2 separate regions of the Homo sapiens genome follow, and region 2 is linked to region 1. The links come from fine-mapping of genetic effects on gene expression. A gene starts in region 1. The other region holds a variant in brackets. All regions are shown on one strand. Distances are from middle to middle.

Evidence for each region. PIP is the estimated chance that this variant, and not a neighbour inherited with it, causes the effect. A credible set is the group of variants that fine-mapping cannot tell apart.
Region 2: its variant is the best candidate, but not a certain one, in a credible set for the expression of MANCR in subcutaneous fat (GTEx, PIP 0.85).

The regions. Positions count from the first base shown.
Region 1 is chr10:4,676,586-4,679,515 of GRCh38, reverse strand. It overlaps MANCR (mitotically associated long non coding RNA), which reads left to right and starts at 1,446. Exons shown (of 4, transcript NR_024475.1): 1 at 1,446-1,467. It overlaps LOC105376373 (a long non-coding RNA gene), which reads right to left. Exons shown (of 4, transcript XR_001747338.2): 2 at 2,697-2,851; 3 at 1-113.
Region 2 is chr10:4,641,374-4,644,303 of GRCh38, reverse strand. No RefSeq gene overlaps it. Among named protein-coding and RNA genes, the nearest start is that of LINC00705, 13 kb to the left of the region's middle. The variant AG/G (reference allele first, on the strand shown) is at 1,319.

The DNA.
Region 1 (2,930 bases):
TTAAACATGGTTTGAACAGCCGGCCGCCTGTGATTGGCTGAAACTCCATGATTGGCACAAGAGTAGGTAGGTCACAGTCTGTTTACACGTCCAGTGAGGTTACAGTTCATTACCTACAGAGAAACGTTTAGACTGAACTTAAAATATGTAAGGAGGCAGCTCTAGGCTAAACTTGATTTAGCAATATAATCTACTAATTCTTTTTGTAATAAAATTATTTAATTTTCAGGTGATAAGATGAAGTATCAGTCATTGAGATGTTTCATACCCAGTAGAATCTGGGGTGGATATTTGCTTTTGTGAATGGCCTTCACATTAGGAAGTGCATTTAGGAAAATCGGGTATTGCATTTTCATGGTTATTTGAGCTCAAAGATTTTATTCCTTTATTGGCCAGATCATTTGGTACAAAGATCAACTAGAAAGAAAGTTTCATGTATTGAGTTTTTGGGAAGGGCTGTTTTAAATACTGTTAAGACGACTGATTTATCTTTCTTTACTTAGTAGGGGGAGGTAGGAGGGGCATACCAGAATTCAGAAGTGCGACCACCATAACCACTTCACTTTTCAATTTATTTTTCAGTTCTAGGATATATAAGCAGACAAGGAGGGTCTCTAGGAACCATAGGAGTTTAATCCACGTGAGCCATCAGCCTGATTTACAGCTTCCTGCCCTGCAGCCTGTTCTTCCCTAAACCCTGGGTGGACTATAGTAACCTAGTTGGTTGAAACCAGCTCCTGACAGACCCTGGCAACTTAGAGATGAACCCTGGTGAATCTTCCTCATGACTGTAACGTCTCCATCCTGGAGGAACTGTAGTTCCGTTATCATAACATGTAACCCATGTGTTGCCATGATGACACTGTGTCTGCACCGCTGGGACCCCTCATCTACATGCGATAATGCACCCTCTCCCCTCTCCATCACCCCATAAAACCCTCCTGCCACTTTCCCTCAGGGAGACACTGCTTTGGAGAATACACCCAGTGCTCCCCTTACTTGAGCCAAGTAATAAAACTCCTATTGATCAAAATCTGCATTCTCGTGGAGAGTCGTTTGTTGCTTGACAGGTGAATGAACGCTGTTTGTTTTTTTCGGATAACAAATATGAGGTATTAAACAAACAAACAAAAAACCCCAGACTTGAAGCTTTCCCATAATAACAACAAAGAGTTTGAGTAAGAATTCCACAGCTTGCCTTCATCTGTGGCAGACTTGCATGAATCATTTTCAAATAAAGATAATAACTCAGTTGGTCTTGTAGTCCAAACAAAATGTGCTACTTCAGGAACATTCACTTCCTATGTGGACTTTGCTGCTGAGTCAGTGTGAGACCTTGAACAAGTCTCTGTTTGTTTCGTACCATTCAGATTTCCTCGTCTGTAAACATTAAGTATCTACATTCACTAAAAGTAGTTCTGAATGAATGTTATTTAATGGTGCCAATGATGTTGGAGGATACCTGTGGTAAGTGGTTTAATTTATTTTTGCAAGTTGGTATAATATCCATACTATATTGACCTTAAAATAGATGGACAATGTGGATATGTGGATGTTTTTGTTATTGAGAAGGGGGTTGACTGAGAGTAAAGGACAGTTTGATTTGTTTTTCTACATTAGTCCTATTCATCTGGCAAATGTGAAATCTCCATTTCGTCATTCATGTTCCTAAGGTGGGTACTAGATATAGTTACATTTTCTTGCCAAAGTAAAACTTGCATCATATACTTAGGAACGTGTGGAGCACTTCTCAGAGCTGTGCTTAATCTCAGGTGCCCAGAAATGTTGAAACTTGTTTACAGAACTTTGGACTCATCTCTGATTTATTAACTCAAGTTATTCCCTGGACCTATAATTAACATCTCACCAGCCTGATATTTTCCTCAACCACTTAACACAAAAGAATGATTATGGAGCTTCACATGCAACATTATCCCTTAAAATTGACTCTAAACAAGGATTTAAAATAAGGTTGTTTCCATGTGCACAGGTGATCAAATCATTGTGTGATAAAACGATAGATTTTTTTATGATGTGTTTTCATATCTCTGTGACCTTTTTTGTTAGAGAGGTGATACCATTGAGTCCCGGGAGACTTAGGCTAACTCTTAATATACAAAAGGATAAATACTTTCTTCTTCAAATAATTCCAAGCTCGTTTTACTCCTTTAAAATAATTTTTAGATATACTTGTCAAATTCTGTGAAATATTCATGTATGAATTTTGATTGAAACTTCATTAATGATGTATTTATCCATTTCTTTTTCTTTTTAACTTAAAATTTATATTTGTTTATATAAAATTTCTGAACATATTATTTTTAAAAACTAGTTATAACTACTTTAGAATTTTTGGTAGCTATTATGGGAAGTTTCTTTGTATTATTACTTTATTATTGTTACATTATATAATTGTTTTTATTGGAAAATAATGATATTTATTTGTATATTGATCTGGCACCATAAAGCTTTCTGACTTTTTGTTTTAGTTGCTTATTTACATATTATCTTAAAAGTTCTATGAGTATGGTCATATGAGCCAACAATAATGATTTTACTAATACCAATTCCTGTATTAGTTTCCTAGGCTGTTGTAACAAAGTGCCTTGACTGAGTGGTTTTGAAACAAAGAGAGCTTATTCCTTCATGGTTCTGGAAGTCTGAAGTCTGAAATCCAGGTGAAAGTAGGGCCGCACCCTCTCCAAAGCTCCAGGGAAGAATCCTTCCTCTCCTTTAGTTTTCTCAGTGGCCCACAGTACTTGGCGCCCTGTGGTTTTGCGGCAGCAGGTCCACCTCTGCCTCTGTCTCCACATGGCTGTCTTCCCTATGTGTCCATGTCCAAATTTCCCTCCTATGAGGAAACCACAGATACCATGTATTAGATTATAGATCCCTCTAATCCATGATTACCTCATCATTAAATCTGCAAA
Region 2 (2,930 bases), 35 kb after region 1:
TGACAATAACAAAGAGAGGTCTCAGGACTAAGCCTCCTGAAGAATGGGATTCCCTAGATGGATAGGATGGTCCCACGGAGATTGTCAAGAGTCACGAAGTACGAGTGGAAAACAATTTCTACTGTAGCAACATGGAGTCAGAACAAGATGGAAATCGAAGATTGGCTGTTGGACGTGGTAAAGTGAAAGTCCTGTGAACACTGAAAAGAAGCAGGTTTGATGGAGCACTGGGGTGTTTGATTGGAGTGTGTTCAAGAAAGAATGTGGGGGAAGAGTGTGGGTGGCTTTAGCAAGAAGATTTGTTGTTGAGGGGAGCAGAGACAGCAGGCAGCAATGGAAGAAATAGAAGGCCTGTTTTGAATTTAAGATGAGATGATGTCTGTACGTAGATGTGAGGCAGAAACTGATGATGCAGTTATCATCAGAAAAGAATGAATTGCTAGAGCAAAATCTTTGAGTAGGCAAGAGGTTATGGCAAAGAGTATAGAGATCAGTAGATTTATGGTGGTCAGATAAGGCAGATCAAAGTTTTCATTATATTGCTTTATTTCTTAATGATGTAAAAAGGCAGTTCTTTGGAAAAACATGACAAAGGGAAAAGACTAAATGCATATGGAGAAAGAGGAAGTTTTGAAATCATGTACTCAAAAAGGGGAAAAGCAAACTTACTAAAGAAATGTAAAGGGATTGCTGGACAGTACTGAGGACTTAGTTGATACGTGTGATTAAAAAATAAAGATGAGTCCATTCATTATGCTTGCATTTAAAAAAATACATTCACATTCAGTTGATCCAGTATGGGGGTAAAGTAGACTGAGGTATACAATTATTTGAGTTACAGTTTTGCCAGGCTAGTATGCACACAAGAGAGAAGCAAGATAACGGAAAGTATTTGTAAGGAAATGGTTGTACTGAGTATATTGATGATGAAAAACCTAAGTTGGGAGGAGAGGAAATGAGGATTAAAAATGGAATATGAACATGGAAAAATTCACTTGAATGTGGTAGGTAGATTCTCAAGATGGTCTCCTTGAGTTACTCTGGTGCTATGGTTGTGTTAAATGACAAAAAAGATTTTGAAGATGTAATTAAGGTTGGTGAGCCATTGACTTTTAAGATAGAAAGATTGTCCAGGTGGGCTTAAGTTAACTTCATGAGTCCTTTAAAAGCAGAGTTTTCTCTGAGGATGTAGAAGTTTGAGAGATTCCAAGGACGAGAAGGATTTCATGCACCATAATAGGCTTGGAAAAACATGTTATGAGGAATGTGCACAGCCTCCAGGAGCTGAGATTGGCCGCTATCTAACAGTCAGGAGGAA[AG/G]GAGGACCTTAGGCCTACACCAACTAGGAGCTGAGTTCTTCCAAAAATCTACATGAGTTTGGGAATGTATTGTTCCCTGAGTCTCCTGAGAGAGCTCATCCTGACTCGCACATTGATTTCTGCCTTGTGAGATGGTAAACAGAGAAGAGAGTTGAGCCTGCCTGGATTTCTGATCTATGGTCTAGGAACTCAATGATAGGTGTAGTTTTAAGACATTATGTTTGTGATATCTTGTTACACAGCAATAGAAAACTAACACGATGGCCAAAAGAGTGTAGATTTTACTGAATTTGAAGGTAAGAAAAAAGGAGGAAGTATTCAAATAATCAAATGCATAAAACTGTAATTTTGGAAGTGAGACTGCTATTGGTGTTACAACAACCTTACAGTGTGAAGAAAAAAGAGATGTTGAGGCAAGTTGTAGGAAAAACTATTTAGAAGACAGAAGATAAGAAGGACCTTGGGTGCCAAGAGCAGAGAGAATGTGGAATTAGACATTTGGCCTTTCTTCCCAGTGACACCCAACGCCATCTACCCCCCAACCCCACTATACCTGCATTTCTGGTCCTTACATATTGTGGCCCTAGAAAGCCTTCCTTGTCTTCTCCAGGACAAAATGTGTAGTTTTGTTCCTCCCAAAATTTGATTTCAGAAAAACTAACCAAGTATGACAGCTTGTTTGCTTACCTGTTTTATAAAGCACCTTATAAGTGGGCATTGTATGCTGTTCACCACTCAATATCCAGCACTTGATCAGGATTTCCCATGGGATTGGTTCTCCTTTCTAAATAGAATCCAATGTTTATTAAAATAAAAGCATATTAATGAAAATTCTGAATGTCTAATATTACATATGTATGTGTACATGCATATTCCTTCCTACTTAAATTTAACTTATTTGCATTAGCTGAATGATTTCCCTTACTTCAACAAAGCCTCATTTTGTCAATTTTGTCAGAGCTCCTTGGGGCTCTATTACAAACTAAGATGTACTTTCTGTGTCTGTATTCTGTGTGTTGTCAGAACTAGCACATCCCTAATGTCACATAACTACTTACGTCCTCCTAATTTGGATATACACTGGTCTGGCCAGAGTGGCTTATTCACCACCTTGGCAAAATCAAACAGATTACACGCACTTTGACAAAAGAAATGGAGGCATATTTTAAATATTTGTTTTTCAAAGCACACCAAGCATATATTTTTATGGCTTAAAAATATTAAATCAATTAATCACAGAAATTAAAATGATAATACAAACAAAGCACATAAACTAGAGACACATTCAAGTTTCAATATATTACCATTACAACTCTCACGGCCATTTCAGCAACAATTGGATGTAGTGTCTAGAAACAGACTACATAAAAAAATGAAAGCAATTCATTTTTGTCATGGGGTGAACTTATAATTCAAGTTCCTATCTGTAATTTCCTGTGCTGGTAGTACATTGATCTCAACAGGATTATTGTCTGTGAAATAACAGGGTATAAAATAGAATTTCCCACTGGGACAACGAAATCCTATTGAATAACCCTGAAAGGTGACATCTACCCTGAAGTTTATTATAAGTATACATACCCATTGGATTTGGTCTTTTCTCCTCTGAAA